Regions from separate parts of the Homo sapiens genome. Here all the other regions are linked to region 1. Evidence: fine-mapped expression QTL. Tissue or cell type: whole blood. Region 1 holds a variant in brackets; each other region holds the start of a gene. Each region is shown on its reference strand, or each on the opposite one.

Region 1 (10,357 bases):
CTCCAGCCTGGGCGACAGAGCAAGACTGTCTCTAAAAGAAAAAAAAAATTACATATATATATACACACACATATATATATACACACATATATATATACATATATATGTTCATAAGCAGAATAAAGTAGCTAGTCAGCCAATTACATTTTGAGTTCTAGTTGATATCCTTGGGAAATGTGTACTTAAACACATTCATTAAATCATTCATTAAATCATTCATTAAATCATTTGACTTTGAAGTAGGGCAGATATGAAAACTATTTTTGACTTTTTGTGCAAGATATTTGCATACTTTAGATTCATATCTGAGCTAAAATGAGTTTAGAGACATCTCTGATTTGACAAGTGGGGAAACTGAGTCCAGAGAAAGTAGTGACTTGTCATAGGTGCCTCTTACTTAGGCACTAACTGGACCACAGCAAACATTCACCAAAATGGGATAACTTACCAAATCATTGGAAAGCAAAGTGTTACTGCAGATGTTGCACATAATAGGAGATCTGGGAAGGACCCCACATTAAAGTTATCACATAGCACCTAATGGCTAAAAACATCATTTCTGAATCCATTCTTCCTGGGTTTGAAACCTGATCCACTACTTAACCATGTAGGTGACCTAGACAAATTATTTATCTTCTGTAAATCTCAGTTTTGCCATCTGCAAAACAAGAATAATGATAGTAGCCAATCCCTACAGTGTTGTAAGACTTTCATGAGCAAATCTGAGTAAAGTGTTTAGATAAGCATCTAATAAATGTAAGTTATTATCGTATTATATTGTTATTAACATTGTATTAACTATCACTGACATGTAATCAATCATTTGAATATTGTCAACTTTCATACTTGAAAGACTCAAAAATTATTCTTTGTCAAGAGAACAAATAGTGAGGTGAGTGAGATGGGGAAAGGCTGAAATTACCCCAGTCACATCAAAGTATTAAAAATATACATCTGGGGGGCATGCAGTGGCCTGCGTCTATAATCCTAGCACTTTGGAAGGCCAAGGTGGGATGATCACTTAAGGCCAGGAGTTCAAGACGAGCCTGGGCAACATTGCAATACCTGGTCTTGACAAAAAAGTTAAAAAATTAGCTGGGTATGGTGGTGCATACCTGTAGTCCCAGCTACTCAGGAGGCTGAGGTGGGAAGACTGCTTGAGCCCAGGAGTTCAAGGCTGCAGTGAGCTATGATTGTGCCACTGCACTCGAGCCTGGGCTCGAGCAAGGCAGAGCAAGACCTTGTCTCCTAAAAAAAAAAACAACAACAACAACAAAAAAAACTATGTCTAAACAATGTCAACAAAACAAAGAGACAACACAAAGAATGGGATAATATATTTGCATATAATATATCTGAAAAGAGATTAATATTCAGAATATGTAGAGAACTCCTAAAACTCAATAGCAAAAAAAATAAGCAACCCAATTCGAAAGTGAGCAAAGGACTTGAACAGACATTTCTGCAAAGAAGACATACAAATGGCCAATAATGCACACGAAGAGATGCTCAACATCACTAATAATCAGAGAAATTCAAATCAAAACTACAAGGTGATACCACTTCACACCTATTAGAATGGCTACTATTGAAAAAAAATCAAAATTAGAAGTGTTGGTGAGGATGTGGAGAAACTGGAACCCTTGTGCACTGTAGGTGGGAATATAAAATGGAATAGCCATTGTGGAAAACAGTATGGCGGTTACTCAAAACATTCAAAATAGAATTACTGTATGTTCTAGCAATTCTACTTCTGGGTATATACTCAAAAAAACTGAAAGCAGGTGGCAGGAATGTAAACTAGTACAACTGCTATGGAAAACAGTGTGGAGACTCCTTAAAGAATTAAAAGTAGATCTACCATTTGATTCAGCAATCCCACTACTGGCTATCTACCCAGAGGAAAAGAAGTCATTATACGAAAAAGATACTTGCACATGCATGTTTATAGCAACACAATTCGCAACTGCAAAATCATGGAACACCCATCAATCGAGGAGTGGATAAATAAACCGTGGTATATTTATACAATGGAATACTACTCAGCCATAAAAAGGAATGAATTAACGGCATTGCAGCAACCTGGATGAGACTGGAGACTATTATTCTAAGTGAAGTAACTCAGGAATGGAAAACCAAACAACGTATGATCTCACTGATATGTGGGAGTTAAGCTATGAGGACGCAAAGGCATAAGAATGATATAATGGACTTTGGGGACTTGAGGGGAAGGGTGAGAGAGGAGTGAGGGATAAAAGACTACAAATAGGTTGCAGTGTATGCTGCTTGGATGATGGGTGCAACAAAATTTCACAAATCACTACCAAAGAACTTACTCATGTAACCAAATACTAGCTGTACTCTAATGACTTATGGGAAAAAAATTGAAAGCAGGGTCTTAAGAGATATTTGTACATTCATGTTCATAGCAGCATTATTCACAACAGCTAAAACATGAAAGCAACCCAAGGCCCATCCAAGGATGAATGGATAAGCAAAATGTGGTATGTCACCGTTTAACAATATTAATTGACAAGAAAAACTGTTTAATGTGGGGCATGCAGTAAACAGCTCTCAAATCTTTCAGCCTTGTAATACAGAGGGTAGTTTTCAATCACTATTAGAGGTAATAATGAAATGCAAAATATGTACTACATATAATCATGCAATAGTGTCGTATATTCACAGAGAAATTGAGTATTTGTTTCTCTGTTAACCTTCAGAGCTCCACGCAATATTACCACCATGTACAATAACGGAATATTCTTAAAGGAAGGGAATTCTGACACACGTTACAACTTGAATGAACCCAGAGGACATTATGCAAAGTGAAATAAGCCAGTCAAAAAAAGACAAATACTGTTTGACTCTACTTATATGAGATACTTAGAGTAATCAAAATCACAGAGACAGAAAGTAGAATGGTGGTTGCCAGGGGATGGGGGAGGGAAGAATGGAGAGTTATTGTTTAACGAGTATAGAGTTTCAGTTTGCAAGGTGAAAAGAGTTCTGGAGATGGATGGTGGTGATGGTTGCACAACATTATGAATGTATTTAATATCACAAAACTATATACTTAAAATAGTCAAGATGGTAAATTATGTGTTATATGTATTTTACCACAATAAAAAAAATTGAAAAAAAATTAGTATGTCTAGAATGGTCATACACAAGAGCTGGAATTAGGGTTACAGAAATCAGTCCCAGGAACATAGTTCTGATGAGAAGAATAGAAAAAGCAATGGGCATTGCCTTTAAAAAACAGTTTTGGCAGGCCAGGTGCAGTGGCTCATGCCTCTAACCCCAGCACTTTGGGAGGCTGAAGCTTGAGCTCAAGGAGGATTGCTTGAGCTCAGAGTTTAAGATGAGCCTGAGCAACATAGTAAGACCCACGTCTCCACAAAAAAAAATGAAATAATTAGCAGGGCATGGTGGTGTATGCCTGTAGTCCCAGCTACTCGGGAGGCTGAGGCAAGAGGACTGCTTGAGCCCGGGCGGTCAAGGTTGCAGTGAGCCGTGATTGTGCCACTATATTCCAGCGTGGATGACAGAGCAAGATTCTGTCTCAAAAAACAAAAACAAACAAACAAATAAAGAACAGTTTTGGCTCATCCAAAACTTTAACAACTACCTCTACAAAAAACAAATAAATAAAAGGGATAGGGAATGTAACCTTCAGAGCTCCTAACCATTCTTCAACCCATGGAAATATAACATTTCCAGACACTCTTTCCAAAATAACCCAAACCAAAAAACGATGTTCTTAATGAGAATGGTATCAAGTCTGAGTCTCCACTGATAATATCTGACTTCACTCTCCCAATAATAAACAGACTCAAAACACCAGGATCACTTTAGGGAAATCTACAAAACAGTTGCTCCAACCAGCATGAACTTCTAAAACTGAGTTTAGCCATCTTCCAATCCAAAGAAAAAGAGAAGATCTTGGAAATCCACTTTGTGATTAAATAGCAACAACAAAACAGAAGGCAGATGCATCCTTCTTTTCCCTCTTTTCCTTCCCATTAATTAAAACCATTCTCTTACAAAAATTAAAACAGTAGCATTGCACAGCAGAGCGTGAAAAGCCCTTCCCTTTGTTCCCCTCCAATCACTTATGCTAAAGGA[G/A]GCCCTGACAGCTATGCACGCCACTCAGCTCACCCTCGCAACCAAGCAAAGCCATCTGCGGTCTTAAACACAGCCACACAGTGCTCTTCTGATTCATACGAAAGTGAGGCGGGAATCTGGCTCCATCATCCCAGGTGCTTTTAACAGCAGCTCCCTGATCAGTTTCTTGGAAGGTAAAGAGAACACTGCATCCTCCCACACCTCAGATCCTGGCACCACCCCACCCGGCTCGGGTGGGAGTTGAGAGCCGGCCCATCCCAGGCTCAGCAGCAGGGGGCTTACCTGCGAACGGACAAAGAGGCAGCACCACACCATGGGGCGCTCTGACCTCATCCACCCGGACTCACCGGCTCCTAACTGCAGTGGAGCCCTGTGCACAGGATTCTCTGAACAGGGCTGAGCATAGTTTCCCTGAAGGAACTCCTCCCCGCCACTTGGGCTGCATGACAGGAAGTGACAGGGGCCATCAGTTACAAGTGTCAGAGGCTGAGAGCCGCACCAGTCAAGAGCTCCCCACCTCTCCTGCTACTGCTGCTTTTGCAGAGCACTCTTTGGGCATTCAAAGGTACACCAGAAGTTCAGTTTCTGACTGACAATCCCCAGCCTGTAAGAGACAAACAGTGCTCACTGGGTCCCCACCAAAAGCAATGTGAAGCATCCCATCGGCTGCAGCGGCTGTGCTGCCTGGAGCTTTGCAGACCCAAACACTGGGGTGAAATAGAAAATAAAGCATCACTAGGAGAAGGGACACTGGGAGGAGAGCTTTGGGTCTTCAAAGAGGAATCAATGATCTACTTGAACTTTACCCAAGAATCAGTAGCCCTGTCCGGGATACAGAGCCCACACTGAGTCGCGGTTCAAAAGCAACTACACACCCATCCGTTTCTTTTTGTCTTATGCAAACCTGGCATCTTCTCTTCAGAGCCCTTTCAAAATAGCTGCTTCTGGAAACCTCCCTTTCAACTTTTGTCATGGATAACAAGAGGTCTTCCTGCTCAGAGCTATTATGGAAATAATTCATGGCTGACATTTCTTGTTTTATGAAGTGGGGATCTCACCAGAATGAACATCTTGCTCCAGTTCCTTGCCTTATAAAAAACCCAGACCTCTTGGGTGAGGTAGACTTGTCTCATAGGAAACTACAAGGTTTCAGATTGAAAACTATGCCTGGCTCACTCCTTCCCCACAAACAAACCAGCACTCTCACCCTCCTTGCACATTGGCAGAAGGTCTCAAACTCAAGGAGACATAACTCCAGTGTAGTTCTCAATTATTTATTTATTTATTTTAGTTATCTAATGGGGTAGTATTTGACTTGCAAAAATCTTCCTAATTACAAATTTTAGCTGTTAAGATTTAGCCCAGGGTTTCCTGGGGCCTTCTTACAAATGCACGGATTTTTAAGAGCCTTCCTCTGTCTCAAGCCTGAGTAAAGTCTGGGGACCCAGCAAAGACAGCAGGTTCATTTGAACAACAAGCTTCCGGTCTAACAGAAGGAGATTAAATCCAAGACTTTTATGAGAAAGCAGGCTCTTTCCATTCACGTTGCCAGAAATTTGCAAAAAGTGCTGAGGGGTCCAGGAAATAAGTGAGCTTGGCAAATGCATTTTCATGGGGACAAAGTCTGAGAAGGGTTCTCAGAGCCAGAGACACATGGGCAGCGTTCTGATGGGTGTTCTAGGCAAAAGAACTGGCAAACTCAACAGCAAGGCAGTGCAGAACTACAGGGTATTTTGGAAGACACCAAGTACTTTAATAGGTCTGGAAGCTGAACTGACAGGCTTGGGTCTTGCTTCAAAAAGTGTGAGGGAATCACACCTGCTTAGAGAAAGGAGGAAGTGAAATCACTGTAAAAAGCCTTACGCCTTTCAGGCAAGCATCTGGGTCACCATGGAGCTAGCACCTGGAAGCACTCGGTAATGAGTGTCAGATCAAATGACAGTGTCCACTGAGAGGTGGGTTTCAGATTGTCCTTGGGATTCCCTATTTCCTAAAGCCTGACTCCCCACAAAGCAAGCTGGTTAAGTGGTGGCTGGTGGAGGGGTAAGGGCAGGTATTCCTAAGGCGTCTTGTTCCAGCCTCCTACACAGGAAGGGTCCTAAATTTGAACAAGCCTGTAAACAACTTGAGATTAGCTAGCTTTGGGGACAATTCAGCCGATGAAGAAAGACAGTGCCCTGGGAAATGCGGGAGGCTCCATCACCCAGCCATTCCTCTCTTGGAGTATTTTCTGACAAGCCACTTCAAGGAGTCCCAGCAGCCAAGGCCAGCCTCACCCCAGTAAGGATTCACTGGAAATGTGAGACGACCAGGGCATTGTACGTTTTATTTCTTTGGAGAGGAGGAAGGAAACATTCACATGAACAAATCCTAGAATGATTCAACCTAACTTCCGGCTGCTGACTGAATGGGAAAGAAGAACTGAAACCCGTGGGCTGCAGCACTTCGTGCAAGAGGTGAAACTTGAGGGGCTCCAGGGCAGGTAGCAGTGGAGCAGGGAGGGGCAGAGAGAGGGCCAACAGATGCCCTGGCAGGGGAAAGGGATGCAAGCCTGCAAAAAGGAAGCAAAAACAGGGCACGGCCGTCTCCTCTGATGCCCTTGCTCTGACCAGAAGCAAGAACTCCCGGATTGAAATGGGTCCATGAAGAAGGCACTTCAAGAGGAGAATTTCAATAGTAAGAGGCTCTGATCCGCAAGGTCCACGTTCATTTTGAGCTTTATAATGGGATATCAAAAGGAACAGGAGTCTTCTCTATGGCATCTAGGATACTACTAAGTATTCAAACATGTTTATGTATTGGTTTTTACATTTTAATAGTAACATAGCATCACTGTCACACATTCGAACCACACAGAAGTATACACATTCAAACCACAAAGAAGTATATAAAGTAAAAAGTGAGTCTTCCCAAAGGCCCTACTTTTTTTTCTATCCCGATCCCATTTGCTGGATGCACTGGTGTTAAAAAGCCAGACGTAGACAGAGGTTCATAAACCCAAAAGGATTTAGGAGCAGGGGTCAGGTACCTGAAAGAAAAGGCCAGGTGGGCACTGGGGCACCACTGAGAGTTTTTGTCTTAGGTCAGTTCCAGCTTTTCGGGTTCCTAAGGGGTTAATCATCCAGGGTGAGCAGACATTCTAATTTTTTCAATAGAAGCCTGAAATTCAGGGTTTTATGTAAAATCTCTCAATTTGTAAATGCTGGCAACTATTCATCACCATAAGAAGTACTGTATGGGCCACATAACACAGTTGCTGGCTACATTTGGCCCAGGGGCCACCAGTTTGCACCCTCTGGTGGTAATCCTTCCAGACATTTCCTTCTGTCTAAAAACACGAGTTGCTGGGTGTAACATCTTATTTTTTTCAAAAATAGAATGATAACATTGTTCTACCACTTGCTTCTTTTTTCATTTAACATCCAGGGCATCTTTCCCTGTCACGCACATTTTTGACCTCTTACTGCAGAGCATGCTATGGTATGGAAGGAAATTAACTCATTTAGCCACCTGCCCTGTGGACATTTAGCAAATACGAAAGATACACTTGAAATGTCACTTCTCATTGTCCATTCCTCTTACCTCTGCCAATGTTGATAACTCATGATGAAAGTGCACCTGTGTGTGGATATTAACATATCATACAGCCACAATTACTGAAACCACAGCGACTAAGGATTTTTTATGTTTTAATATGAGCACTTACCATGTATTTTCCCACGTGATCCTCACAACAGTCCCAAAGTAGGCCTTATTATTATCTTTCTTTTTGCAGATTTAAAAAAACTGAGACTCAAAAAGGTGGTGTACGCCTACCCATGGCACGTGGCCTAGAGGTGGTGAGGTTGGTCAGGAGTGGGGCCTAGCAAGCTTACTTCAGAGCTCCTGCTACAAGCATACAGCCCTCAGAAGACACAGCGAGAAACCTGCTCTGGGATATTCAAGAATCTGACATATTAGAGCACAAACCACTAGAGAAGGATCGCTAACAATGGGACAATTCACTTGCCTCTTGGAATGAAAAGCCTCATTTTAAAGCCCTTCTTCATACTCATCCAACATAAATTCTACATAGATTGGAGAGAAATGTTAAAAGGGGGAAAAAAACCTACAAAATTCTGGGGGCATAGGTTTTCAGGGTATGGTATTTTTCTTTCAGTATATAGAGTTGAATCATATATTTATACACAGGAAACTACCTATAGGGTGCCTACGATGCAAAGATGAACCCTGTTTTCCCACAGCTGGTTAAATAACCAAACTGGTAACAACCCCTCTTGTTGGGCTCTAAAGAGATTAGCACCAAAACTGGGACCTAACTAAGGTGTCACCAAAAGTGTCATGGTATCACTAGAACCAGAACCATGTTTCCTGTGTTCTTGTTCGATATATCTGAGGGTATTTTCTGTTGAGAAGTTCCAAGCAATTTCCTTACCAAAGATATTATAAGGAACATACTCGTCAGGGTTGTGAGAATTTCATTTACATAAAATAAAATATTTAGATTTTAGCAGAATTACTTCTTCATTAAAAGTTGGCAAGCAACGATGATTCTTTCCATTTGAACTTTATCCTGGTTCCTTAATGTCTTTCTTATTTGTACTTAACAAGCCAGAAATGTCACAAAATCTTACAGTTGGAAAGGGAATTTCAAGGTCTTTAAACATACCCCATTTGATACTTCAAATTTTAAAATTCCACAAACTGAATTTAAAAATAGGTAGTAAAAAAATCTCATGGCCAAGGCCGGGCACGATGGCTCATGCCTGTAATCCCAGCACTTTGGGAGGCCGAGGCGGGCAGATCACGAGGTCAGGAGATCAAGATCATCCTGGCTAACGTGGTGAAACCCTGTCTCTACTAAAAATACAAAAAAAAATTAGCCAGGCGTGGTGGCGGGCACCTGTAGTCCCAGCTACTCAGGAGGCTGAGGCAGGAGAATGATGTGAACCTGGGAGGCGGAGCTTGCAGTGAGCCGAGATTGCACCACTGCACTCCAGCCTGGGTGACAGAGCGAGACTCCATCTCAAAAAAAAAAAAAAAAAAAAAAACTCATGGGCCAGTGCAGTGGCTCACACCTGTAATCCCAGTGGTTAGGGAGGCAGAGACATGAGGATGGCTTGAGCCCGGGAGTTCAAGACCTGCCTGGACAACATGGTGAGACCCTATTCTCCATAAAAAGAAAAAAAAAAAGACCAAAAAAAAAAAGGTTGGAAAAAATCTCAAATGGGATGGTAGCCGTGACCAAATTAAAATAATATATTGCACACTGGCTTACCCAAGGTTCCAACATCATAAGATTATTAGTTCTCAGATCTTAGGTTTCTAAGACTGTTGTCAAATTTAGGTAAGACTAAGGAAAAACAAAAATTCAAAAACAAATTCAGGTAACACTAAGGAAAAACAAAATTTGGGTGTTACTAGGTTATCAGGGAGGCATAAAGCACAGCAAGCCAGTGAGAAATAAAAAGAATATCAAATTAGAGCCTGAGAGTTGCTCACAGTCATGCACTTTTATTGAATGTCTTTATCTACTCCTCAAAGCTGGAAGGGTGGTTAATCCAAGTAAAACCTGAACAATTCCTCTGCCTGCTTCACCATGAACTCTAGACAAATGGAGCAGCGGTGTCCAGACACTTTCCCAGGCCAAGGCCTATTGGACTCAAGGTGGTTCAACTCAAGAGACTGTGAACATTTGAAAATGTTGATGCTCTTGGAGAGCCCTGCTTAGTATCCCAGCTCAACAAGATTATAAAATGATGAGAAGAATGTGGGAGCAGACCTGGCTGCTCAAGGTCAAGAATGAATAAATAGAAAAGTCTTCATCTATGGTTTCAACACAGGAACTAAAAATAAATGATGCTGGAACATGGAAGTCTCAACGATTGCTAGTCATGGCTAATCTTGAGTGCTTATCTTACTGGTTTTGTTACAAGCAATCGCCTGAGCTCTGTCTTTATTCTCTCTAAACAAATCTGAACTTTTATAACCAGATTCCTCACATTATTTTGGCAACTGATACATGGGCAGCTATTTTTAAAAGTGAATGCAAAAAAAAAAAAGGAAAGCTGATGTATGCTGTGAAGCAGCCACCGGCCTGGCCGCTGCGGTTCTGCCTCCTTGACTAACACAAGAAGCAAGGGCCACCTGAAGAATTTCTGCATGAAGCACACAGGGGCCGCTTGCAAATAAGCTCATCCAGTTTATTTCTTAGAAACATAAACACCCT
Region 2 (10,357 bases), not on the chromosome of region 1:
AATCCTCTCAAACCCTGCTGCTGCCTTATCAAATAAGTTTATGTAATAGTCTAAATCCTTTGTTGTCATTTCAGCAGTGTTATAGTATCTTCACCAGGAGTAGATTCCACCTCCAGAAACCACTTTACTTGTTCATTCATAAGCAGCAACTCCTCCTCAAGACTGCAGCTCCATTTTTAATTCTTCCCAAGAGTGATCTTTTTCAGATTCCACTTCTTCAGGCTCCATTTTTAATTCTAGTTTTCTTGTTATATCCGTGACATCTGCAATTACCTCCTCCATTAAAATATGGAACTCCTCAAAGTCATCCATGAGGATTGAAATCAATTTCTTCCAAACTCTCATTAATGTTGATATTTTGACCTCCTCCCATGAATCACAAATGTTCTTAATGGCATCTAGAATGGCAAATCCTTTCCAGAAAGTTTTCAATTTACTTCACCCAGATTCATCAGAGAAATCACTATCTTTGGCAGCTATGGCCTTAAAAATGTATTTATTGGCTGGTTGTGGTGGTTTATGCCTGTAATCCCAGCACTTTGGCAGGAGAATCGCTTGAACCCAGGAGGCAGAGGTGAGCCAAGATCACGCCACTGCACTCCAGCCTGGACAACACAGCAGGACTCTGTCTCGAGAAAAAAAAAAAAAAGCATTTCTTAAATAATAAGACTTGAAAGTTGAAATTACTTCTTGATCCATGGGCTGCAGAATGGATATTATGTTAGCAATCATGAAAACAATATTAATTTCCTTGTACATCTCCATCAGAGCTCTTGGGTGACTAGGTGCATTGTCAATAAACAGTAATATTTTGAAAGAAATCTTTTTTTTTTTCTAAGCAGTAGATCTCAACAGTGGGCTTAAAATAGTCAGTGAACAAAGCTGCAAACAGATGTGCTGTCATCCAGGCTTTCTTCTTCCAGTTATAGAGCACAGGAAAAGTAGATTTAGCATAATTCTTAAGGGACCTAGTGTATTATTTTGTTTTCATGCTGCTGATAAAGACATCCTGAGACTGGGTGATTTATGAAGAAAAAGAGGTTAATAGACTCATTTCCACATGGCTGGGGAGGCCTCACAATCACGGTGGAAGGTGAAAGGCACATCTCACATGGTGGCAGACAAGAGAAAAAAGAGCTAAATTAAAGGGGAAACCTCTTAAAAAACCATCAGATCTCATGAGACTTATTCACTACCACGAGAACAGTATGGGGAAAACCACCCCCATGATTCAAATATCTGCCACTGGGTCCCTCCCACAACATGTGGGAATTATGGGAGCTACAATTTGAGATGAGATTTGGGTGGTGACACAGCCAAACCATATCACCTAGGATTTTCAGAATAGTAAATGAGCATGGGGTGCATTAGCCACTAACAAGATACTCATCCTGTTCTCTGAAGCTTTGAAGGCAAGCATTAACTTTTTCCTCTATGAAAGTCCTAGATGACATCTTCTAATGTAAGTCTTTTTTGCCTACATTGAAAATCAGGCATTAACTTTTTTCTCTGTGAAAGTCCTAGATGACATCTTCTAATGTAAGGCTTTTTTTGCCTACATTGAAAATCAGGCATTAACTTTTTTCTCTGTGAAAGTCCTAGATGACATCTTCTAATGTAAGGCTTTTTTTTTTTTTTTGCCTATATTGAAAATCTGTTGTTTAGTGCAGCCACCTACATCAATGATCTTAGCCAGATCCTCTGGATAACTTGGTGCAGCCTTTACATCAGAACTTACTGCTTCACTTTGCAGTTTTATGTTATGAAGATGGCTTTTTCCTTAAACCTTCTCTCAGTCTTTATAGACTTGAAAAGAATTAGAGCCTTGTTCTGGATTAGGCTTTGGCTCAAGGGAATGTGGTGGCTCGTCTGACCTTTTATCTAGACCAGTAAAACTTTTTTCATATCAGAAACAGGCTGTTTTACTTTCTTATCATTTGTGTTTTCATTGGAATAGCACTTTTAATTTCCTTCAAGAACTTCTCCTTTGCATTCACAACTTAGCTAACTGCTTTATGCAAGAGGCCCAGCTTTCAGCCTATCTTGGCTTTTGACATGTTTTCCTCACTCAGTTTAATCATATCTAGCTTTTTATTTAAGAGACAGACTTGGCTCACGCCTGTAATCCCAGCACTTTGGGAGGCCGAGGCAGGTGGATCACAAGGTCAGGAGAGTGAGACCATCCTGGCTAACATGGTGAAACTCCCTCTCTACTAAAAATACAAAAAATTAGCTGGGTGTGGTGGCATGCGCCTGTAGTCTCAGCTACTTGGGAGGCTGAGGCAGGAGAATCGCTTGAACCTGGGAGGTGGAGGTTGTAGTGAGCCAAGATCGTGCCACTGCACTCCAGCCTGGGCAACAGAGCGAGACTCCATCTCAAAAACAAAAACAAAAACAAAACAGAGACAGACATTTGGCTCTTCCTTTCACTTGAACACTTGAACACTTAGTGGCCATTTTAGGGTTATTAATTGTCCTAATTTATATATTGTTGTGTCTCAGGGACTGGGAAGGCCTGAGGAGAGGGAGAGAGATGGGGACATGGCTGGTAGGTGGAGCAGTCAGAACACCTAACATTTATTGATTGGATTTGCTATCTTATATGCCCATGGTTCATGGTGCCCCAAACAACTACAATGGCAACATCAAAAATCACTGATCACAGATCACCATAATAGATATAATAATAAGGAAGTTTGAAATATCTTGAGCATTACCAAAATGTGACACAGAGACGTGAAGTGAGCGTATGCTGTTGGAAAAATGGCTCCAACACACTTGCCTGATGCAGGCTTGCCAAAAACCTTCAATTTGTAAAAAAAAAAAAAAAAAAAGAATCAATATCTGCAAAGTGCAATAAAGTGAATTGCAATAAAATGATGTATTCCTGTATCTAAAATGTCTAGTTTTCAACAAAAAATCATGAGACCTGCAAAGAAACAGAAAACTGTGATCCACAGACAGAAAGAAGATAAAAAACAAACAAACAAAAAAGTCAACAGAAACTGCCTTTGACAGAGCCCAGATGTTGGACTTAGCAGACAAAGACTTCAAAGCAGCCATTATAAATATGTTCAAAAAACTAAGGGATACCATGATTAAAGAATTAAAGGAAGGTATGATGATAGTGTTTCATTATGAAATATAAAATATCAATAGAGAGAAATTATAAAATATAACCGAATGTAAATTCTGTAGTTGAAAAGTACCATAACCAAAATAAAAAACTCACTAGCGGAATACAGCAGTAAGTTTGAGCCAGCAAAACAAAAATTTGCAAACTTGAAGACAAATCAATAGAAATTATGCAATCTGAAGAACAGAGAGAAAAAAATGAAGAAAAACAAATAGCATCTTGGAGGAATGCAGGATATCAGTAAGTGCATCAATATACACATGATGGGAGTTTCATAAAGACAGAAGACAGACAAAGGATCAGAAAAAATATTCCAAACAATAAGGCCTGAAAATTCCCCAAATTTGATGAAAAGAGCATTAATTTACATATTCAGGCAGCTCAAGCAGGATAAAAGAAAAGAGGTCAATATCCAAATATATCTAGTTAAAATATTAAAGACAAAGACAAAAAAAATCTTGAAAGCAGCAAGAGTATGTGTAAGGGAAGCAAAATAAGATTAATAGCTGATTTCTCATCAGAAATAATGGAGGCCATGGCTGGGCAGGGTGGCTTATGCCTGTAATCCCAGCACTTTGGAAGGCTGAGGAGGGCCGATCACTTGAGGTCAGGAGTTCAAGACCAGCCTGGCCAACCTGGTAAAACCCCATCTCTACTAAAAATACAAAAATTACCCAGGCATGGTGGCACATGCCTTTAGCCCCAGGTACTCAGGAGGCTGAGGCATGAGAATTGCTTGAACCTGGGAAGCAGAGGTTGCAGTGAGCCGAGATTGTGCTGCTGTACTCCAGCCAGGTTGATAGAGTGAGACTCTGTCTTGGAAGAAAAAGAAATAAGGGAGTCCAGAGGTAGTAGGATGGCATATTTAAAATATTGAAAGAAAGAAAAAAACGCTATCAACAAAGAATCATGTATCCAGAAAAAGCATCTTATTAAGGTAAGCAAAAACCAAGAGAATGTGTTGCTAGCAGACCTGATTTATAAGAAATATGGAAGGAAGTTATTCAGGTTGAAAACAACACAAAGCAGTAATTTGTGTTCATAGAAAAATACCATAGAGCACCAATAAAGATATTTCTTCTCCTGAGTGATTTAAAGCAATTGTATAAAACACTATGTATAATTGTATTATTGGGTCTATTATATATAGAAATGTAATATACTTGTCAAAAATAGCACTAAGGAAGTAGGTGGGAGCAAAGCTGTATCAGTGTAAGGACTTACTGAATGACCCAATCATTAGAACCTTGTTAAAAATGTAGAGACTAGAGCTGCTTTGTTTTATTCTTGATTTTATGAGGAATATGAAAAATACTTAAAAGGAAAAACAAACAAACATGACTTTGGAGTCGGAAAGTTTGGACTGAGTCCTTTCTTTGAGCAACTTTTAGCAGTTTGAATTTAGACTGCTAGCTTCTTTGAGTCTCAGTTTCTGAATTTATCAAATGCAGTTAGTGGTATACTATCTGATCTAACTGCTTTGTCCTATGTGTCCTTCAGAAGTATCCTCGAATGTGGTGATATATTGACAGAGCTGGTGGATTCATCAGAATGTGGGAATGTTCCTATTTTTATTCTACACTTCAGCCTGCCAGTTCAAATCCTTCCCAGTTCAGCTCCAAAGCAGCCCCTCTCCCATCACTCAAAGGCCATCCAATTCCCATTCTCACAGTTCCTCAAGACAGAAAGGATCCTTCAACTCCATGGCCCTTCATCAGCATATATATATATATATATATATATATATATATATATATATATATATATGTATTTTTTTTTAAATTGGAGATGGGGTCTCACTATGTTGCCCAGGCTGGTCTAGAACTCCTGGGCTCAAGTGATCCTCCTGCCTCGGCTTCCCAAAGTGCTGGATTATAGGCTTGAGCCACCACGCCAGCCCATCAGCACATCTTTAATTGCATTTTTCCACAGTCTTCCTTAAGTAATTCGTTTTCATGAACTATCTTTTCTTTTAGACTGGGTTTGCTGAAGGGAGCGGAGGCTCCTGTCTTCCATTTCAGTCATGTCTTACTAGACACTAAATAGAGGTAAATTACTGAATGCATTCAATCTGCATCAAGCCTCCGGTAGTCCTACAGTAACTGGTATCCCTCCCCTCCCCAGAAAATAATATTTTGTTTTATTAATGCTGGCTACAGCAGAGTCTGGTTTTCTTAAGAGTTCCTGCAAATCACAGGTTCGTCCTTTAACTTTGAGACCCAGGGAAGGAGGGAGCAAGGGAGGGAGGGAGGGAGGATGCTGTCAAGTCCGCAAAAATATGGACAACCTCAGAAACCTATAAACAGAAATATACTAACATGGTATATTTCTTACTTTTAAGGCCCTGAAATTATTAATTTTCCTTTCTTCTTTCTATGCGATTTTGGTTTCCAAATGTGTACATTGAGCAGGTATTGTTTTATGATTAGGGCGAAATTGCTGCTGCTGCTGCTGCTGCTGCTGCTGCTGATTACAAAAAATAGGCTGCAAGCAAGCCGTGCTTCCATTTAAAAGCTCCTCTTTGTTGCCTCGACAAGCAAGGGGTACTCGATAGCACTTTTCGGTTAGATTCTAATAGAAAGAAAGCTTTAAATTTCTCTCTCGGAAGCACTTTGTCAGCCAGGGTTTTCCCTCTCGCCCACCCTGCAGTTAAGGAAATCTAAGAGGTGGAAGTGGGGCGGGCTGGAGGGCCACAGACAGCCGCTGACCCAGACGCCCCATCTCCCGCCCCAGGGCGAGGGTGCGCGCTGTCGCTTATTGGCCAGCAGGGTCCCAGACCTTGACCAATCGCCTGGGGCCGGGTCGTCATGGCGACGCGCCACGCTAACGCATGGTGTCGGAGGGAGGCCCACTTGCTGAACAGCAGGGAGCGATGGCGCAGAACGTGTATGGTCCGGGAGTCCGGATAGGCAACTGGAATGAGGATGTCTACCTGGAGGAGGTACGCAGGGTGTGGCCAGGCGCAGACCCGCAGCTCAGGAACTCCCAGACCCTGCTCTAAGTTCAGTCTCCTACTTTGAGCGCCTCAAGCCTCCTCTCTCTCCCAGCATACAGCGAATACCTCTAAAATCCCCCACTTCTCTAAACTCCCAAGGAATCTCACCTGCCGAACTGCAAACCCAGGTCTCACTGACCTCTACTCCGAGCACCCTGACTTTTCTTTCTCTGGGTCCCTTGGCCTCCCAAAGTCAGATGCCTTGACTCTCAAGCCCCTGGCCTGTGTCTCCCGCTTAGTCTAGAGCCCCACTAAGTCCCCCGTATTCCTTAGAGTCTTACAGTCTCAGGCTGCGGGCCAGGTGAGGACACAGGTTCTAGGTAGAAATAATATCCCTCCCCACTCCAACCCTGCCACGCTTGCCCTCTTAAATGACCCTGAGTATTCCTTTTATTGACGTTGTACTCACTCACTGCCTCGTATTCTCCCAAGGGTGGTCTTAACAAGGCTTTGAGCCATTCGTATACGGGTCAGATTGGGGAGGGGTGAACTTTCTAGTGTCAGTCATCATACGGTCAAGGGAAACCCCAGCAGGGGAGACATGGCCTCCAAATGTCATTTAGGATGGTATCTGGCTGGAGTAATTACTGGTGATGTTTCTTTTTCTTTGTTTTGCCTTTCTCATTTTTCTAAACATTCTATAATGTAGTAAAAATATTAAAGTAGTGCTAAAAACGTTCCATCATTCCAATTATGCTCACATCTCTTTTTTTGTACTCAAATTTTGCTTTTTCAACTTGGAAGAGCTTCTGACCTAAAAGTTATTAATACTAACATCTATATTATTCAGGGCTACTTTTGTTGATTTTCTGTTTAGGAGCTCATGAAAGACTTCTTAGAGAAGAGAGACAAGGGGAAACTTCTCATACAGAGAAGTAGAAGACTAAAACAGAATCTCTTGAGACCGGTAACTTTTTTTTTTTTTATTACACTTTAAGTTTTAGGGTACATGTGCACAACGTGCAGGTTTGTTACATATGTATACATATGCTATGTTGGTGTGCTGCACCCATTAACTCGTCATTTAACATTAGGTATATCTCCTAATGCTATCCCTCTCCCCTCCCCCCACCCCACAACAGGCCCCAGTGTGCGATGTTCCCCTTCCTGTGTCCATGTGTTCTCCATTGTTCAATTCCCACCTATGAGTGAGAATATGCGGTGTTTGGTTTTCTGTCCCTGCGATAGTTTGCTCAGAATGATGGTTTCCAGCTTCATCCATGTCCCTACAAAGGACATGAACTCATCATTTTTTATGGCTGCATAGTATTCCATGGTGTATATGTGCCACATTTTCTTAATCCAGTCTATCGTTGTTGGACATTTAGGTTGGTTCCAAGTCTTTGCTATTGTGAATAGTGCCGCAGTTGGTGGGACTGTAAACTAGTTCAACCATTGTGGAAGTCAGTGTGGCAATTCCTCAGGGATCTAGAACTAGAAATACCATTTGACCCAGACATCCCATTACTGGGTATATACCCAAAGGATTATAAAACATGCTGCTATAAAGACACATGCACACGTATGTTTATTGAGACCGGTAACTTTAAATTCAGACATTGTTTTCAAAATTCTGTTGAACTTGGTGTGAGTATATGTTAAGCAAGAAAAAAATTTCATAACTGAGTTACCATTTGGAAAATAACAGTTTTTAAAAACAATTTGCAATGTTTTAAATTCTTCTAAGATTTTAGAAACATAAACAGTCTGCCCTAAATCATGTTTACCTGCATTTTACAAATAAAGAAATAAATGAGTTAATATGTAAATAAGTAAAATGCCCCTTAGTTGGTAATCGACAAATTTTTCAATGAATGTTGAATTTCTAGGATAATGAGTAAATCCATGTGATTTTAACCAGCTTTATTCGACTTCATTTGGAATTATTGGGAGCTTTGCCTTGGCAAAGGGGAAGGGAAAGGAAGAAGGAACTAAGGGTTCGAGGGAATCCAAGTGAAATCCTGAATGAAATGGGTACTAGTCCGAGAAGGAAGAAAATTGCCTTGGCAGTAACTGTTGAGGAATTGCATGGTTTATGTAATAAACTACTATCAAAATTGTAGATGCAACTTTCCGTAACTGAAGATGGCTATATTCATTACGGTGACAAAGTGATGCTTGTGAATCCTGATGATCCTGACACAGAAGCTGATGTGTTTCTGCGTGGGGACCTGAGCCTGTGTATGACTCCAGATGAAATTCAGTCCCATCTGAAAGACGAATTAGAGGTACCCTGTGGCCTGAGCGCAGTTCAAGCCAAGACCCCAATTGGCAGAAACACTTTTATCATTTTGAGGTAAAGAGACTTTAATTTTCAGTTCATTTTCATCATAAATATGTTTCACTTGTAGCTTAAAGATTCCTGGGTATTGGAGCCACTGAGTGGAGGGAAAGGTTTTGTGAACATTTTTCGTGATTTTCATCTTGCTTTGCTTACCTTGAGAATTATTGTCAAAGGAACTTTACAATCCCTTTTTACCTTAGACAGCAGGATAATTGTGTTCAATTCAAAATGCTTAAATCATGAGTATAGGATCCAGGGAATTAAATCCATATTCTGCCTGGAAGCAAAGTAGGTTTTCCCTATAACATTTTGGAACTTTTTGAGCTCATTTGAGTGTTTTCATTGTTCTTAATACGGCTATTTTTTTTTTTACAATAAAAACGTGTAGTTTAATACAATGTGGCACTAGATGGGATTTTCTCTTTTAAAATTAACTGTCCATTAAAAATGTATTTGAAGAGATTTTGAAAATGAACAATTAAATCCTTAGAGAAGAAATAGATACATGATCACAATTAAAAACTATTACTAATTCGTATGACAGCAATGTAAGCATTGCAAGAATATATGGACCCAGGCAAGGTACAGTGGCTCATGCCTGTAATCCCAATACTTTGGGAAGTCAAGGCAGGCAGATCACCTGAGGTCTGGAGTTCGAGACCAGCCTGGCCAACATGTCGAAACCCCATCTCTACAAAAAATACAAAAAATTAGCTGGGCGTGGTGGCAGGCTCCTGTAATTCCAGCTACTTGTGTCACTGAAGCATGAGAATCACTTGAACCTGGGAGGTGGAGGTTGCAGTGAGCCAAGATTGCACCACTGAACTCCAGCCTGGGGGAAAAAAAAGAATATATAGACAGTTCTTCAAGTTCTAATTTAGATTTCCTTTGAATACATATGTTAAGACAAGTAAAAATTGATCACAACCTCTGTTATCCTGAAGGATTAAGAGGGAACCGTATTAAATGTCTACAAATGTGTTACCTTGGTTCTCTCTGAACATGTCAATGCACTTGACCAGAATTCCTTAGTATACATTAGCAAGATGTGCTTAGTTTACTCTAACCAGAGGCTCACAAAGTGGGGATGCTTTGTGTGCTAGCTATGGTGCAGGGCAGGGAGTAGGGTGCTAGCTGGATTTTAAGACCAAAAGAAAACACCTTTTATTTAATTACCTAATTCAGTTACAGTATGTGAATATAAATTATCAAAAAACTGATTATAAACAAAATTGCATGCATAAAAAATAGAGTCATAGAATGATTCTAATACAGAGAGTTTACATTTACATTATACTTATTGTCCACTGACAGTGTACACAGAGATGCCACTGGTCAAGTCCTTAGATATGGGCAGGACTTTTGCCTGGGGATAACAGGAGGATTTGACAACAAAATGGTGAGTTATCACTTTGCATATCTACTTTGGATCAGTCATTTCTGTTGCCCAAAATGGGATCATAACTATCTACTGAAGTGGACAGAGAACTCCAGAGTCATGGGCTCCACCTCTGACTTCACTATGGTGTCAGCTTGCAGCTTTTCACAGGCAGTTTTGGGCCAAGCCAGTCTTTCCTTTTAACTTCCCAAATTACAAAAACTACACCCTTAAAACCTAAACAGTAAGGGAGGAAAACCATTTCACAATGCAGCTGGCAAAAAGCAAAAGTTTATACCACTTCCACCTGTAAATTAAATGATTGAATTCATTAATAACCATCTGATACCTGTCAAATGTTGCCAATGCTAGCAAGGCATATTATCTGACAACTTTTTTATTTAAACTTTTGATGATCAGACTTTTGCTTAGTATGGGAGTAGGGACAATATGAGATGCTTAAATTTGCATAAATCAGGGAGCCTTGGGGATTAGGAAGTATAATAGAACCAGATAGATTTGGGTTTGAATTTCAGGTGCGTACCTATGGGATGGGAATTTGGG
Region 3 (10,357 bases), not on the chromosome of region 1:
GCGTTTAAAGTGTTATTACGAAAGTCAAAAAGTTTAAAAATTAAGAAGTTTATAAATAAAAAACACAGTAATCTAAGGTTAATTTATTGTTGAGGAAAAAATATTTTTTATAAATTTAGTGTAGCCTAAGTGTGTACAGTGTTTACAAAGCCTAAAGAAGTGTACAGTCATGTCCTAGGCCTTCACATTCACTCACCACTCACACTCCGACTCATCCAGAGCCACTTCCAGTCCTACAAGCTCCATTTGTGGTAACTGCCCTACAGAGGTGTACCATTTTACTCTTTTATACCATAATTTTACTATATCTTTCTACATTTACAGATGTTTAGATACTCAGATATTCACCATTGTGTTACAACTTCCTATGGTATTCAGCACTGTAACATGCTGTACAGGCTTATAGCCTAGGAGCAATAGGCTGTACTATATAGCCTAGGTTTGTAGTAGGCTATACCATTTAGGTTTGTGTAAGCACACCCTGTGATGTTCACACAATGACAAAATCACCTAATGATGCATTTCTCGGAATGTATCCCAATTGTTAAGCAAAACATGACTGTATTTTTGAATATCCTGTATCCAACACAATGGCTGTTGCAGAATGTTTTGTAATTCATATGTGTTTATGAACCTGAAACTTGAAGCCCCTTCTGAGTTAACAGCAGAGAGAATGAAGGGGAGGGATGATTTTGCATATGGATGGGCAACACGCTGGGTTTTTACAGTCTTACACCCAGATTTTAATGTTTGCAGTGTAAAGGAATCCAGGTGGTCCTGAGTGGCAACTGAATCATTCTTTCTCTGCATGTAAACAGAGTAACTCAATACATGCACTCAAAAACAGAAGACATCTGCATCTCGGGAGGTATAAGCATGGTGTCAACACTGTGCCATGTCTCAGGAGCTGGTCTTGTCAAGTTTCAGTGGGAAACCACTAAACATAATGAGTGAGATGCCTGATACCCTATAATTATTATAGTATATACAGTATGCTATTTATGTATCAAGTTGTATTACATGTGTGAATAATACTATGTTATATGTAATGTAATCTCTTCATTAGAGAAAGAAGAGTTGAGGAAAGCACTGTGGTGTGGTGGTTAAGAGCACAATTTGAAATTCCCACTCTGTTACCTACTTAGTTATCTGAAAGTGGGCAAGTATTTTAAACTCTATAAACTTGATTTTTCTCTTCTGTAACACTGGGGAGGATAATAATAATCATAAGAAATAATTACTAACATTTATGTGTGGCTTATTTATGACACACATTATTTTAAATACCTTAAATTTATTAACTTTTTTAATCCTTCCATAAACTCTATGAGGGAGGCAATATTATCCCCATTTTAGGGATGAAGAACCTAAGGTACAGAGAAATTAAGCAACATGACCTGATATACACAGCTAACAAGTGGCAGAGCCAGGTTACCTCATTATTCAAACTCCAGAGGATGTTCTTTTAACCAGATCATATCTATCTTTTAAAAAATTGTTTAGTTCATGCATGGAAAACACTTAGTATTCCTGGCATATTAAAATGATTAATAAATTGGAACTGTTATCATACTACATTAAGAATGACACCGATCATCAATTTAGTAACTTTTGTTGTTCAAACTGTGAAATACCAAGTATACAAAAAAGAGAGGAAAATTAAAGCTTTTTTTCCCCAACAATCCTGTTAAAATTAATAATAGATGACAACAAGTCAATAGCAAATTTTTATTTCATGTGAATATTTTTGTAAGAATAGTGTGGGTATAAGTTTTAGGGTTTAAAAAATGAATGAAAGTTCTGTTGATGAAAAAAGTAGAATTTAGAATTAGGAGTCTAGTAAGGTTGAAGTCCTATATTGTACTTATTTATAAGGCTCATTCTAATGATAGAATTATAACTATGTAGATATGTTAATTCATTTTCATCATCTATTTTTGTTCTACTAGTGGCAAATATATTCACTTTAAACCAGCTAACCACAGTTTATAAGATTCATATTCACCAATTTATTATTTTAGTGTTTGATGGCTAAAATAAACATCAGAATAAACTTTCAGGGAGTATTTTAAATAAGACATCCTAGGACTAAGACACTGAGAGACTCCATTAAGTTCCTAAATATATTAACAAAAATGTATTGAGCAAATATTCTCTGTTGGGCTCCATGTAATTCCTATTATCATTGACCATTATGAAATCTAATAATACCCATGAGTATGTCTAATAACCATAAAGTAGACCAGGAAAAATCAACCAAGTTGTGTTAGAATAGAAATTTTTAAAGAAAAAAATGCAAAGTACAGTCCAATGTTTAGGCAAGAATTAGAGGGTTGAAACCAGGCTTATTTATTTTCATCTTCTTTCTGCCATCTTTTAACCAACCTTCTCAGAATAAAATGTGATTTTTGAGACAGAATGAAACACATATCCAAATTTTAATACAGTAAGAATAGGTATCCTGAATAAATGAGAACTCTAGAAAATCAAGGTTTCAAAATTCTACCCTTCCTGGGAGTTAAAGAAGTTTGGCAGAAACAGAACAAATTAATCAGCAGATTCATCACCTGCCAATTTTTTCTGTACAATTTTCTTGATTCTGGGAGCATCTGGGTCCAGGCAGATTTTCCTCCCATCCTTCAGTGTGGCTCTGCAAAAGAGAACAGGGTTATCTGTGGGTGTCCTGATCTGAATATCAGAACTAATCCATGAGACTGGAGGAAACGAGTGCATATGTGGATGGAGGTAGAGGGTTTCTCTGATAAGGCAATAGCACAGAAACAGCAACTTACATCACTTCGACTTGGTTGCAATGGGTTCCTTTCCCGATCACTTCCAAACTTTGGATGTTTTTGGGATGAATTCCAGAGGTTGTCTTTATACACATGCAGCGGAGTTCAGCATACAAGTCACTGTCTAGACTTTCCTCTAGGGTAGAAAATGTGACCTATTGGTGGTCATGAATATTTTCCTCAGGTCTCTTATTTGCAGATTGAGGGCAATTGTACCTCTCTCATAAAGCCATTGTGAATATGATCTGTAACGCTTTAGTAAAGTGCCCAGAAGATTGCCCAGCACACAAGAAGTGAGAAGTGACCCCCCTGTGTGTCTCCTCCAATTGGAGTTATTGGTATAATGGCCCTCTCCAGCCCCAAAGGCACCAAGCTAGTCTTTACCCCAGAGACAGGTGTAGCAGAAGCAGCAACAAGTGCAGAGAAGCAGGGCCTCTACCTTTGCCTTTCGCCAAGTTTCTCTTAGTTTGTCCTTTGGTGGAGGAAGCCAGAGCAGTCAGCAGCAATGACAGAAGCAGCAGCACCTGCAAGGCATGAAGTGGTCTCGCACTGTTACAGGAAGGGGTGGTATCAAGTCTGAGGCTCATGGTGGAGAAGGCTGAGCTAGAGTTGTTTCCAGAACCAGAAGACCTCTGAGTGAGGGTGAGTTGCTGCCTACAAGTCTGCAGATAAGTGGCTTCTCATGCCCTGAAGATGTCATTTATATGCTCTTTCTCAAAGCCAGTAAGAAGGAAGAGGTAGGAAAGGAGGAAGTGAGGGTATGTGGTGATACACACATAAGCATTTGAAGCTGTGCCCAACCCAGAGAAAGACCAGACAGGTCAAATTCCTACTAACTTGCTTAATGTGCATCACTTCACATTCCCACTCTCCCTTTCTCAATACTTATCTTCCTTACACCTGTGTAAGAACTCCGTTCAGGAAGGTAAGAACTAGACTGAAATACTACATGCATTTTCTTTGTATGATTTATAACAATACGCCCTGCCTTTTCTATACTGCAGTTTTTAGGCTTAATAGAAACTTTAGGAGCACCTGAAGGCACAAACATGTGGCCCTTGAAAGAGAAAGTTATCTTTGCTTGCCAAAGAAAGCAAATGTTCTTTTCATGAATGTTGATAAATATTGGGATTGGTTTGGAGCATGTAAGTAAAATAAGAGCCAATTACCGTCAAAGGTTGTCTTTGGATTTTAGCTTATTGGATTCTTTCTGCCTTCAATCTATATTATCTTTTGTAATTTCATCTAGAAACTACAAATGAAACTCATCCTCCTTTATATTACAAAAGAAGCTACTTGTTTCTACCACCTAAGAATACCTAAAAAGTAGGACCCAGCATATTTATTTTTCTTTTTATTTTTAATTTAACAGAAAAATTATATAATTTATTGCAAAAGATTCGTATGCTGCAGATGTCTTTGAAATAAAACACAAATTTCTCTTCATCATTTCTCCACATTCCTACTATTCAGTGGTAAACACTGGTAACAATTTTGCATTAGTTTTCAATTCTGTCTGCACTTATATGCACACATGTATATGTATACAATGAGACACGTTTAAGACATAGAGGTACACATATACATAGAAGTATTGTATATGGATCACTATACAGCTGACTTTTATCCTTCAAAAAATATGTGTTCCTTATCTTTTCAGGTCATCTTAATGTAGTTTTCCCCCATTCTTCTTAATGACCATGTGACGTCCTGTGATAAGAACAATAGTTACTCAACCTTGCCTTGTTGGTGCCCTTCACGGTGTTTCCAATTTTGCACTATTAGAAATTGTGCAAGAAATGTCCTTACCAAGGAAAATATTTGTTCCTGAATTCTCAGACCCAAATTAAAGGTTTTGGTCTGAAATGCTATATCCCTACAAAGATAGAGAGGTGGACCTACACATTACATGTTGGCTTTATGTTATTTTCTGGTTCTCTGTCCCATCTGTAAGACTTCCTTCCTCAATTGAACCATGCACTTTTGTAGGGAGTGGCATGTCCTGTGTTTGTTTGAATGTCTCATGTATCCTATAACATGTAGGATACTTCAATATAAAGTAGGTCTTAAATAATTAATAAATCAATGAATACGTATCACATGAAAGCTTCCCTATCCTTTCTAATCACCTACAATTCCAGGCCAAACTCGACAGGACCCAAAGCAACTATGCTATTTAAATTTATTTGGAAGATTGTCAATAAAGAAGAGGCAGATGTAAGTGGCACTGGCAACAAGTTTTCTTCCTTTTACAACTATGTATAAGTCTCACAGAATATTATTTAAATTTTCCATATTCTTTTCTTACTTTTCATATCCTTAAATTTTAGAAGAAATGCTTAAAATACTAAATGTTCAAAATTACTCTCTATCAAAAAGATGAATATAGTAATTTTTTAAATCATGTTTTTGTTTTCAAGCCAATTTTCCCTATTGTTTAATAGTTATCTACTATGTCTACTCAAGTTCTCAGGTCCTGTTTTTAAATGCGATAACCTACAGACCACATTTGACAGTTTACTTTAGAAGTAAGCAGACTTCCAAATTAACTCGCCCTGGAAAGGTTTCGTGACTTGATGGTGACATTCTATCTCTGAGTAAAGTATTTTATTACGAGTTCCTCAAATGATTGATGTACTAATTACTGTAGAACCTACTGACACTAAATAGGACAATGATTTATTTCTAAGTTTAGCTGAAACAAAAAGTTTTATTGATTGTTTTGTATGTAGACATTTAGCCTGTATGCTGTAATCTGTAGCTAATGATTTTAACTTCGGTATTGTACCCTCCAATGAAAAAGAAGACAACTCTGGTATGAGGAGTTTTTCTGCCTTATTTTAAGCTTTTCTATTATATAAAGCCCTTGTAACTTGTGAAAGACTCTAGAACACCCCCAACTTTGTGGATGTGTCTTCCCAGGTCTGTCTTCCCAGTTGGCTTTCAATAAACATGTATAAAATTATTTCTGCCTCACTAGCCTTAGTTTCAGTTGATGAATGTATTTCTTATTTTTCTCCACCTCATTTATTGTTTTCTTTAAATTAGAGTTTAGCAGTAGAGCATATTTAATTGGAATGATTTTTCTCCCTGTCACAACATAGAAATTTCTAGTCTTAAGCAAGCTTAAAGGAAGGGTGTAAGCTGAGAGTTCGGAGTCTTCTGAGAGTTGAGATGTGGAGTTAATTGCAGAGATAAGCTCAGCAGGACACAAAATGAGGGGAGCAGACTTCTTTCTCTTTCCTCCTGTGGGGTGACTTTATAGCTTTTCTTCATTATTGAGATTGAGATATTGTGAATTCGCAAGTCATATACATTTTCAAACATAAGATCAAAGCCATTTCCAGAACAAGATATAAAGGTTTTTTTTTTAACACTATTCATAGTATATTTCATTTTCTGTTCAACACCAAAATACATTGCTGAAAATGTTTATTGGCTTCACTGGACACCTTTTTTCCCCCTACTTAACGTTATCCAGATTTCTTTCCTCGTTCATTAGTAAGATTTCCTAAAAGTTCCTAATCGTTTTAAGAAAACTGTATGAAAAGTTTTCTGAAGTAATGATGCTTTTGAGTGAGTTGATACCAGGAAAAAGGTAGGCTCTTTCCTACCAGGAAACCAACTGGTGGGTTAATACCAGGAAAGAGGTGACTCCAGTATCATGGAGTCATTGTCTTAATCAACAAATGTGGCTTGTCACGAAAGACACATCGTCGGCAAAATTCGTGAGGAAGTAGTAACAGATTTCTTGAGTCATCAAAATTTCTTAAGGATATCAGTCAGCATTTGATATAAAACAATATTTTGCTAGTTTTTATTAACTCAAAAAATATTGATTAAGCATCAGTTGATTAAGCCTGAACTTCCTAACAGGTTTTACGAAGTTCTCTTTGCATGACTTGGTCATTTAATTATTTATTTTTTAAAAGTCAGGCCTAAAATATTTGTGGAAAGCAATGGGATATGAAAAATACTCTACTCTTGCTGCTATGATGACAACTGCTGCTGTTAATTGCTGTTACTGTCATTTGCATCATTCCCTTCCATTTCCACGTTGAGAAACACAGTAAAGATGATGATAAACTGAGTGTACAAAACTGGTTAAAAGATGTTTTTAAAAACTTATTCAGTTAAAAGCATACTGTTATGCAAAATTATTGTTTAAATAAATGCTAGAATTAGAGAAGAGTTATTTTGTTCCTTGTTTTTAAAATAACTTGACAGCCTTTTTATTAATCTTACATTGTCATTGTGGGTTTGTATATGTGTGTGTTGGGGGGTGCTAAGTTATTTTAGCTCTTTTTTCTTTAAGTCATCTTATAAATAGCAGAGTCATGAAGGAAGCAAGCAAATTATCTAAGACTCAAAGCACATTTTATGTTAGCTATTTTAAAAGAAAATATCTAGAGACATTGGAGGACCACTATCTATAAAATTAAGGCATAAATGACTTCTCTGCCTCACACAGAACATTTTTAACGCACATTTCCCAAATCCTTCTTTCAAGTATGAAGGAAATAGACTAGCACAAGCAAATCAATCATAAAAGCAATTAGTACCAAAAATGCTAAGGATAGTACAATGTTGAGTCTGTTCATTAAAGTATCTTAATCAATAAATTTAAAATACTAGCCATCAAAAGTTTTTCTGTAAGGGCTGAAACCAAATGTGCTTACTGTATAACTATGAGTTGACAAGAATTGTTCAGATGTGAATTGAGGTTTTACTGTCTACTGCCCAGAGGTGAAGCATGGGGTGAAAATGGGAGGACAGTGGGGAGGGTGAAGAAGTTGAGGGGAAGTATCTTTCTGGGCGCTATTATATACAATACTTCAAAGTTTTGCCAGACTCAGAATTTGTGTTTTAAATTATGTTGATTAATATCATTTGTTAAATCTCAAATATATGAAAGTTACCTAGTTTCCTTACATGCTCATTCATTAAGGAAATTCTAACATAATGTTCTAGAGCATTGTTAACAAGTACCATTAATCCTCTTTTGTTGTGTAATAAGTCGACCTCATTGTTAGTGGCTTAAAATATTAATTTATTGTTTCTGATAATTCTGTATGTTAGCGTGAGTTTCTTCTGCTAAGCTCACTTGAGTGCAGTCAAGAGCAGCTGAAATGGCTGAAATAAAGAGTGGGACAATAGGGTGACAATAGTCAATAATAACTTAATTGTACATTTTAAAATAACTCATAAAGAATGTAACTGGATTGTTCGTAACCCAAAGGATAAATGCTTGAGGGGATGGATACCTAATTCTCAATATGCTTATTTCACATTGCATGCCTGTATCAAAACAGCTCATGTACCCCATACATATATACAGCTACTATGTACCCACAACATTTTCTTAAGAATAAGAAAAATAATAAAATAATTTAAAACAACATTTTAATGGCTTAATTCACATGAGAGGTTGTTGGTGTTGGCTGCTGGTTGTGATTTCTACTGGGGCACCTGCGTTCTTCTCCTACTCTTTTAAATATAATTATTTAACTTCTCACTAATAAGCAGAAATGAGGAATGGCGGGAGAGAAGGAGAGTAGGCAAGGGAAGGGGAGGGAAGAGAAGAAGAAGGAAAAGGAGAGAAGGAAGAAAATAGAAAGGAAAAAACAGGCAAGTCATAGTCCCTTCCAACACCCTCCTCCTCTCATCCTTGTCTCCTCTAGTCTTCTCTTTTCTAGTTCTTCCCCTCACCTCTTCTCCCCTTTCTTCCACTCTTCTTACTGGAAAATATTTGTTCTGTGGGAAAACTGAGTATATTTGCAGCAGAAAACCTTAACTTAGACTGAAAGTTCCTCATCTTTATAATTTCCAGATCATAAGGATCCTACAAAGATAATAGGCATGTAACAGGATTATCGATTAATATCAATAAATTAATATTTGATTGATGAATACTTATACAAAGGAAAATACATCATATATTTTGATAGGTACTATGTAATTGACAGAAAATATACAGAGAGTATATTGTTTCCAGAGCTTCTTTAAAAGACTCTGGTGGCTTATGCCTGTAATCCCAGCACTTTGGGAGGATGAGGCGGGCAGATCATGAGGTCAAGAGATCAAGACCATCCTGGCCAACATGGTGAAACCCCATCTCTGCTAAAACTACAAAAATATTAGCTGGGCAGGGTGGCACGCACCTGTAGTCCCTGCTACTCTGGAGGCCGAGGCAAGAGAATCACTTGATCCTGGGAGGCAGAGGTTGCAGTGAGCCAAGATCATGCCACTGCACTCCAGCCTGGGCGACAGTGAGACTTGGTCTCAAAAAAAAAAAAAAAAAAAAAAAAAGACTCATAGCCTATTCTAATATATACAAGTACATGCCAATATAAACATGTATAATGTAATCCAACTGGAGTGTGAATGTATGTACATACATACTAATATGATTAATCTTCTTTCTTTCCTTTTCTTGTGTTTCATAAAAGAGCAATTTCATATAAATACCTATTCTTAGGTATTTATATAGTAAATTTGAGGGACAAGGGAAGTTGAAGTACTGATCAAGATTGGGATGAGACAGAACCTCATTTGTCATTTAGATAGGGAAATGTTAAGTATAACCTAAGAATATGTATTTAAATGAAATTGCTCTTTTAATTTTAGAGTGACAAGGGGACTTGTTTAGCCAAAATCACTTGCTTTTTGAATACCTAGTATGTGCTAGGCACTGTCCTAGGAACTGAGATGAAGTTGATAAGCATTGTCCCCGCCCTCATGAGGCTTACATGAAGCTAGAACAGAGAGACCTTAAACGGATGACAATAAACACACAGGCTCAATAAACTCTACAGTAACTTCGGTGAGAAAACTTCATGAAGGAAAAGTACAGAATGCTATGAGAGGGTATAAAAGGGTCCTCCTCAAAGGTAGGAGTAAGGGTTGGAGAGGTTTCCTCAAGAAAGTAAAAGGCAAGCTATTCCAGAAGGAAGGATGGTAGCTACCCTGGTAAAAGTGAGGGGAGGTATTATAGATTGAGAGGATTGTGCATGCCAAACTCCTTGTTGGACTACTGCTAGACAAGGAGAAAAGAGGGTAAACAAGTTATAATTTAATTAAAACCGAGCAGGGTGGCTCATGCCTGTAATCCCAACACTTTGGAGGCTGAGGCGGGCTGATGACCTGAGATCAGGATTTCAAGACCACCCTGGCCAACATGGTGAAATCCCATCTCTACAAAAATACAAAAACTAGCTGGGCATGCTGGTAGGTGCCTGTACTCCCAGGTACTCGGGAGGCTGAGGCGGGAGAGTCGCTTGAAACTGGGAGGCAGAGGTTGCAGTGAGCTGAGGTCATGTCATTGGAGTCCAGCCTGGGCAACAGAGCAAGACTCGGTCTCAAAAAAAAAAAAAATGACATCTACCATGAACCAGGTTATTGAATTTAGAACAGTATCTGACAGCCTGAAGATCAGGATAACTTGTTAATTCATTAATTCATGCATTAATGCTACATTGGGGATGCAGCGGTAGATATAATATGGTTAATGTTCTGGGAGAGCTAGAGTGGATGAAGAAACCTATAAACAAATAAGAGCAATGCAG

What was found. PIP is the estimated chance that this variant, and not a neighbour inherited with it, causes the effect.
Region 2: CFAP161 starts here. The variant in region 1 is fine-mapped to the expression of CFAP161 in whole blood (TOPMed, PIP above 0.99).
Region 3: PPBP starts here. The variant in region 1 is fine-mapped to the expression of PPBP in whole blood (TOPMed, PIP 0.96).

Annotation. Positions count from the first base shown.
Region 1 is chr3:56,911,899-56,922,255 of GRCh38, forward strand. It overlaps a transcript of ARHGEF3 not described here. Among named protein-coding and RNA genes, the nearest start is that of ARHGEF3-AS1, 23 kb to the right of the region's middle. RefSeq lists enhancers at 3,884-4,436, 4,437-4,987, 4,914-5,003 and a silencer at 4,034-4,103. The variant G/A (reference allele first, on the strand shown) is at 4,129.
Region 2 is chr15:81,128,322-81,138,678 of GRCh38, forward strand. It overlaps CFAP161 (cilia and flagella associated protein 161), which reads left to right and starts at 5,949. Exons shown (of 7, transcript NM_173528.4): 1 at 5,949-6,077; 2 at 6,949-7,038; 3 at 8,195-8,427; 4 at 9,730-9,814. The coding sequence starts at 6,009.
Region 3 is chr4:73,984,725-73,995,081 of GRCh38, forward strand. PPBP (pro-platelet basic protein) reads right to left here and starts at 3,466. Exons shown (of 3, transcript NM_002704.3): 1 at 3,232-3,466; 2 at 2,793-2,928; 3 at 1,715-2,650. The coding sequence starts at 3,379. The coding sequence ends at 2,548. RefSeq lists enhancers at 119-632, 633-1,145.